Linked DNA regions of Homo sapiens. The protein of the gene in region 1 purifies or fractionates together with the protein of each later gene. This does not show direct contact. Each region holds a gene or a part of one and is shown in the gene's direction. Other genes may lie near its edges. The genes, in order: SHPK and LRP4.

Region 1 (3,811 bases):
TTGAAGAAATAATGGAGAAAAATTTCCTATAATTGACAACATAAGATAGAACACCCCAGCCTGAAAGGGCCCATAGAATGTCAAAGAGGAGATAAAGACAACCCCCAGCTAGATATATTCTAGTGAACTTTTAAGGATTTCAAAGACAGAATTCCAAAAGCTTACAGAGCAAAAGATCAGATCCCATATGAAAGAATAAGGATCAGATTGACATTAGATTTTTTTCAACAGCAGCATTCTGTGTGAAAAGACAATGGAGTAGCATTTTTTTGTTTGTTTTGTTTTTCTGAGATGGAGCCTCACTCTGTTGCCCAGGCTGGAGTGCAGTGGTGCGATCTCAGCTCACTGCAACCTCCGCCTACTGGGTTCAAGCGATTCTCCTGCCTCAGCCTCCGGAGTAGCTGGGATTACAGGCACCCGCTACCACACCTGGCTAATTTTTGTATTTTTTGTAGAGATGGGGTTTCGCCATGTTGTCCAGGCTGGTCTCGAACTCCTCACCTCAGGTGATCCGCCCACCTTGGCCTCCCGAAGTGCTGGGATTATAGGCGTGAGCCACCGTGCCTGACCAGGAGTAGTATTTTGATGACCTATTGCGGCACAACAAACTACCTCCAACCTAGTGACTGAAAGCAACAAGCATTTATCATCTGTCATGATTTTTTGGGTCAGGGGTTGGGCAGGGCTCAGCCCACTGCTGCTTCTGCATGGTGGTGGTGGAGGTTGCTTGTTAGTGTTCAACTGGTGGACAGACTGGTCCAGGGGGTCACGGTGGCTTTACTCAATGCCTGGTACCTTGGTGGGAAGGCTGGAGGCTGGGCTCACCTGGAAACGGTCTGCCGGCTGCTCTTTGCCCGTGGTCTCCTCAGCATGGCGGCCTCGGCGTAGTCGCACTTCTTACCTGAAGGCTGATTCCCCCAGAGAGACTGGTGTAAGAGGCTTGGGCGGGAGCTGCAGTACTTCTTATGACCTAGCCTTGGGAGTCCCAAGATGTGACTGCCTCCACATTCTCCTGGTCAAGCACGTCACCAAGGTGATTCTATATTCAAGGAAAGAGGATTCAGATGCCACCTCTTAATGGGAGGAGTAGTGAAGAATTTGCAACAATCGACCACAAAAAGTGCTTTTAAGCATTGAAGGGAAGGAACTTAGAACCAGACTATTATAACTAATCAAACTGGCATTTAAAGATGGGAACATGAGAAATATTTGGTGGCATCTGGGCCTTCAGACACTGCCTGGAAAGACTGACACTGAAATTGGCCTTGGGAGAAATCACTGAATAAGGGCAGAGAAAAATCCAGAGGATGTCACAAGGCACAAATGAAAAAAAATCTGACGGTCAGATGATTTTAAAGTAAATTTGGATGTCTAAAAATCAATCAGGGCCAGGTGCGGTGGCTCATGCCTGTAATCCTAGCACTTTGGGAGGCTGAGGTGGGTGGATTGCCTGAGCTCAGGAGTTCGAGACCAGCCTGGGCAGCATGATGAAACCCTGTCTCTACTGAAAGTCCAAAAAATTAGCTGGGCGTGGTGGCGTGGGCCTGTAGTCTCAGCTACTCGGGAGGCTGAAGCAGGAGAATCGCTTGAACCTGGGAGATGGAGGTTGCAGTGAGCCGGGATCATGCCACTGCATTCCAACCTGGGGGACACAATGAGACTCTGTCTGAAAAAATTAAAATAAAATAAAATAAAATAAAACGCAATCAGCTAAGAACTAAGGAAAAGAGAAAATTTACTGGTAATCAAGTAGCAGTAAGCCTAGATAATGTCATGATGAGGGTTGGAGGGACAGAGACCAGGGGACTTGAGATTGTGCCAAACATCTTCTGAGATGTGGGGAGATATGATATCAACTTCAAAAAAGAATAAAAACAAACAGAGAAGTGGGGCAAATGGAGGGAGTATGTGACGTGCCCAGGGTCCCACAGTCATTATGTGGTAGAGCCAAGTACTAAAGCCAGTGCTATCAGGACCCATAGGTGTGCCAGGCTTTATCATGGGACGATTCGCACATATTTTGTCACTCACCAGCAGAGTAGTATCAAGGCCGCGCCATGCCTAGTCATTTGCTCTTTTCTTCATTTTTGGTCATCTCTTTTGTTCCAGGCTGTGAATGGACAGAGGGAGGGATTACCCCGGTGTTCGAGCCCCGAGCTGTTAGCCACCTGGTCACGTGGCAGGATGGCCGATGTAGCAGCGAATTCCTGGCCTCTCTGCCCCAGCCGAAGTCTCATCTCAGTGTGGCCACGGGCTTCGGCTGTGCAACCATCTTCTGGCTTTTGAAATATCGGTACGGGCAACTGCACTTTCACTCGGGTGCTGGGTTTCCGGGAGAATGAGAATAGGCCGGGGCTGCGTCAGCATCACCCCGCCTGCTGGGCTGTGCCGCAGTGAGTGTGTCCTGGCAGGACAGGATGCAGCATGGCCTGGACCTCGATTGGGTCCAGAACCACGTCCTTTTGCAGAGGGCTCTCTATTGGTTATCCAGTTCCCACCCACATAGGGAAAGGAGGGAACAGAGAGGGCAAGTGACTTGCCGAGGGTCACGGGGAGAGTTCGCAGTGTGTTCAGGCCTGCGAGGCTGCTGAGGAGGCTGACGTCTGCTTTTCCAGGCTTGACACTTCCTCCTCTCAGGCCCTTCCCCTGGGGCTGACTTAGGCTGGCTTTGCTTGGGGCAGCTGGGAGGTCCTAATCCCAGGGACCCAGCTGGACTTGAGCCATAGTATATGCGGTTGTGGCTGCCACCTGGCCATGGCACAGCTGGTCCCTGCTGCCTGCAGCTAGGTGCGGCACATGCTTCCGAGTTCATGTTATACCGTGTTGGTTGTTTTTGGTATGAAAAACAGCCCAGAGTTCCTGAAGTCCTACGACGCAGCCGGTACCATCCACGACTATGTGGTTGCCATGCTGTGTGGCTTGCCAAGACCTCTGATGTCCGACCAGAATGCTGCCAGCTGGGGCTATTTCAACACGCAGAGCCAAAGCTGGAACGTAGAGACGTGAGTATCACATCCTTGCAGGCTGTTCCTCCTGCTCCAATCTGAAGGGCAACCCCGGAGCCAGTGCTTCAGTGGGTGCTTTCCCATCTGGGAGTGGTGGAGGGTTCCCAGAGGCCAGGATCAGGGTCCAGTGCCCCTGGCCTGTCCCAGACACGGGGCATGGATGGGCCCAGTGTAAGCACAGCCCTGAGCCCTTGGGTAGGGGCCTCAGCCATGCTGTCCTGCTCCTCCACAGCCGCCCAGACCCCAGGTGGGCTCTCCCTTCTCTGTGACCATGAGCCCAGTCTGTAGGTTTCAGAGTACAGCTTTCACTCTTTAATACTTAAACTTAGAGAGCCAGGCGCGGTGGCTCATGCCTGTAATCCCAGCACTTTGGGAGGCTGAGGCGGGTGAATCACCTGAGGTCAGGAGTTCGAGACCAGCCTGGGCAACATGGCGAAACCCCATCTCTACTAAAAATACAAAAATTAGCTGGGCGTGGTGGAGTGCGCCTGTAATCCCAGCTACTCTGGAGGCTGAGGCAGGAGAATCACTTGAACCTGGGAGGCGGAGGTTGCGGTGAGCCGAGATTGCACCACGGCACTCCAGCCTGGGGGACAGAGCGAGACTCTTGTCTCAAAAAAAAAAAAAAAGAAAAAAGAACTAGAGATAGTAGGCTTGAAGGATGCCTTTTAAGTTCTTTTTGAACAATCATTTGCCTTTTCAGGTACAGAAGTCCAGTGCCCTGTAAGTTCACTTCCTTCAGGGCCCAAATTCTGAGCTCTGAAATAAAACAAAAAGCACCTGGTAGTTCAGGTAAAGGACTTTCC
Region 2 (3,811 bases), on another chromosome or scaffold:
GGAGGGAGGTGGGGGGGTCAGCCCCCCGCCCGGTCAGCCACCCCGTCCGGGAGGGAGGTGGGGGGGTCAGCCCCCCGCCCGGCCAGCCGCCCCGTCCGGGAGGGAGGTTGGGGGGTCAGCCCCCCGCCCGGCCAGCCGCCCCGTCCGGGAGGTGAGGGGCGCCTCTGCCCGGCCGCCCCTACTGGGAAGTGAGGAGCCCCTCTGCCAGGCCACCACCCCGTCTGGGAGGTGTACCCAACAGCTCATTGAGAACGGGCCATGATGACAATGGCGGTTTTGTGGAATAGAAAGGAGGGAAAGGTGGGGAAAAGATTGAGAAATCGGATGGTTGCCGTGTCTGTGTAGAAAGAAGTATACATGGGAGACTTTTCATTTTGTTCTGTACTAAGAAAAATTCTTCTGCCTTGGGATCCTGTTGATCTGTGACCTTACCCCCAACCCTGTGCTCTCTGAAACATGTGCTGTGTCCACTCAGGGTTAAATGGATTAAGGGCGGTGCAAGATGTGCTTTGTTAAACAGATGCTTGAAGGCCGCATGCTCGTTAAGAGTCATCACCACTCCCTAATCTCAAGTACCCAGGGACACAAACACTGCGGAAGGCCGCAGGGTCCTCTGCCTAGGAAAACCAGAGACCTTTGTTCACTTGTTTATCTGCTGACCTTCCCTCCACTATTGTCCTATGACCCTGCCAAATCCCCCTCTGCGAGAAACACCCAAGAATGATAATAAAAAAATTAAAAAATAAAAAAAAATAAAAATAAAAAAATAAAAAGAAAAAAAAAAAAAGACAAACAGGCCACTACCCATAAATCTTGAAGACACTGGGTAAGACCACCACCATGTACAGTTGTGTAGGTTGTGCACTGTGCAGAGGCAATATGTCCAAAGGGAAGCCAGTCACATAATAGATTTATATACTCATCATGGCAGTTTTCCAGCAGATGGCAGTAAAGTGTCTTGAGGAAAGGATACTTTTTTCTGATTCACACAAAGACACTATATAGACCAGCTGTGATCCCGGTGTCAAGAGTGGCATGGGTACTGATATAAGCTGCAGATTTGGGTGGCAGGGAGAATTTCAGGCTGAAATGGGGCCCACCTTTCATTAAGCCTTTGCTTTGCCCAGCCACCTCCATGTGTACGGCAGAACAGTTCCGCTGTCACTCAGGCCGCTGTGTCCGCCTGTCCTGGCGCTGTGATGGGGAGGACGACTGTGCAGACAACAGCGATGAAGAGAACTGTGAGAATACAGGTGGTGTCTCCCGGGGTGCCCCAGAACCCTTAGCCTATAGTTGGGGTGGAAGGGTGGAAAAGAGGGTGCTTTGGTATCTTTCCAGTTGGGTTGAGGTTTTACCAGTGTAAAATCCAGGTGCATCATTGACCTGCGGCCTTATGGCCTGGAGCACAGTATCAGAGCTGCGAGTTTCAATTGCCACTCCTATTCTAACTCACACACAGCCAGTGCCTTTAGCTCTGGTCTAGTGAGGAAGGACTACCCTCCATCTGGCAGCCCCCATGTGTGCTCCCCTGGCCACACCCAGTATTGAGCATGTGGTTGCACTTTTTCATTCTGTTCCATATTCCTCACCATCCCACTGTGGAGTCCTGGGGAGAAAGCAAATGCAGACATTCAGCCAGCCCTGTCTGAGCTGCTTCCTGCCCAGGACCCTCACCCTCCCACCTTGAGTCTCATCTGTCTCCAGCTTACCCTAGAAAATGACAGGCTCCCATCTCTTTGTTGGCCCAAGCCCTGCCTTGCTATGACCTGACCCTCCATCTCTCTAGGAAGCCCCCAATGTGCCTTGGACCAGTTCCTGTGTTGGAATGGGCGCTGCATTGGGCAGAGGAAGCTGTGCAACGGGGTCAACGACTGTGGTGACAACAGCGACGAAAGCCCACAGCAGAATTGCCGTGAGTGTCCCCAGTGGGCGGACCTGGCCCATGGTTTGTGGCCGAACCCCACCCATAGGGTTCAAAGGGAATCCTCCCTCAGGACTCTTGCAGCTTTGGGAGCTGTTCTTTGTGGTCCAGGTGGAATGCCAAGTTGGCTCTCTGGGGGAGGATTCTGGGCTCAACTCCCAACTCTGGCTTGGCTGGCACAGGGCCCCGGACGGGTGAGGAGAACTGCAATGTTAACAACGGTGGCTGTGCCCAGAAGTGCCAGATGGTGCGGGGGGCAGTGCAGTGTACCTGCCACACAGGCTACCGGCTCACAGAGGATGGGCACACGTGCCAAGGTGAGCTGGGGCCTGGTTTGCAGCAGAGTCGGGGTTCTGAGCAGGGGCAGCAGACAGGCAGCTGTGTTTCCTATGGGTCAGGCATTTGAACGGTGTGACCTCATTTCGTCCTCACAATAACCCTAGGAGGTGGGGATCATCCTTCCCATTTCACAGATGGGGAGACTGAAGCACAGAGAGGATAAGTAGCTTACCAAAGGCCACACAGCTGGCGAGTAGCAGAGTTGGGATTCCAGCCCAGGTCTGCATGACCTTAAAGCCCTTAACCATTTCTTCTTTTTTATTTTTTATTTTTATTTTTTTGAGATGGAGCCTCGCTCTGTCGCCCAGGCTGGAGTGCAGTGGTGCGATCTCGGCTCACTGCAGCCTCCGCCTCCTGGGTTCAAGCCATTCTCCTGCCTCAGCCTCTTGAGTAGCTGGGACTACAGGTGTGCGCCACCACGCCCGGCCGCCCTTAACCATTTCTTAGACAGCCTTCCCACTAGGCCTGGAAAGTAGATGGGGATGTGGGCAGAAAAGCAGCTCGGCAGCCTGGGAGCGGGAGTGGGAGGACGACAGAAGGGAGATCTCTTGACCTGCCTGGTGTTCCCAGATGTGAATGAATGTGCCGAGGAGGGGTATTGCAGCCAGGGCTGCACCAACAGCGAAGGGGCTTTCCAATGCTGGTGTGAAACAGGCTATGAACTACGGCCCGACCGGCGCAGCTGCAAGGCTCTGGGTAAGGGCTGTTGGCACTTGGCTGGGTGGGCAGAGGGCCGAGCATGGAGGAAGGCCAGGTACTCTGGTGCTCAGGGATTTGCAGAGAGGTAGAGAGATTTCTGTCACAGTAAAATGCAGCAACAGTTGCATTCTGAGCCCCAAGAAAAATGCTGCTGGGGTGGAGTGGGGTGGGGAGGGGTGGAGGAATATAGTTTAAAGGTTGCCACTCTTCTGGTACTGATGCTGACAGCTTGGGGCATGTCCTTGTGAGCAAGTGGCTCCATCGGTCAGCTGAAGACCTGCTGATGGGTACCAGGGGCGGCTCTGAAACCCAGTGGGTATCCCATGTTTATACTGTTTCCCAGGGCCAGAGCCTGTGCTGCTGTTCGCCAATCGCATCGACATCCGGCAGGTGCTGCCACACCGCTCTGAGTACACACTGCTGCTTAACAACCTGGAGAATGCCATTGCCCTTGATTTCCACCACCGCCGCGAGCTTGTCTTCTGGTCAGATGTCACCCTGGACCGGATCCTCCGTGCCAACCTCAACGGCAGCAACGTGGAGGAGGTTGTGTCTACTGGGCTGGAGAGCCCAGGTAGGGAACAAGGCCCCATGGAGAGGGGCAGAGCCATGCCACATGCGCAGCAACGGTGGGAGGAATAGGCCAGTGGTTTGCAAACCTTAGGCAGCAGGACATCTTTTTCTTCCAGGGAAATCTTAGTTGGAGCCCTAATATAGAAAACATTTGTTAATGTATATCAATTTTATAGGTTCAAATATAACATTTGCTCATGATTGAGCTCAATCAGTGAGAATAATGAGACCACGTTGGTGGTTGTGATCATGGGAATCAGATTTATGGATGACAGAGTT

What was found.
Region 2: the proteins of SHPK (region 1) and LRP4 purify together in Homo sapiens (affinity purification with mass spectrometry; one large-scale study listed by BioGRID and IntAct). This does not show direct contact.

Annotation. Positions count from the first base shown.
Region 1 is NC_000017.11:3,622,530-3,626,340, reverse strand, and holds part of SHPK (sedoheptulokinase), read left to right. Parts: intron 1-2,109; coding exon 2,110-2,293; intron 2,294-2,849; coding exon 2,850-3,002; intron 3,003-3,811. UniProt on the Homo sapiens protein: Acts as a modulator of macrophage activation through control of glucose metabolism.
Region 2 is NC_000011.10:46,894,311-46,898,121, reverse strand, and holds part of LRP4 (low-density lipoprotein receptor-related protein 4 precursor), read left to right. Parts: intron 1-1,127; coding exon 1,128-1,253; intron 1,254-1,786; coding exon 1,787-1,912; intron 1,913-2,103; coding exon 2,104-2,238; intron 2,239-2,830; coding exon 2,831-2,956; intron 2,957-3,302; coding exon 3,303-3,533; intron 3,534-3,811. UniProt on the Homo sapiens protein: Mediates SOST-dependent inhibition of bone formation. Functions as a specific facilitator of SOST-mediated inhibition of Wnt signaling.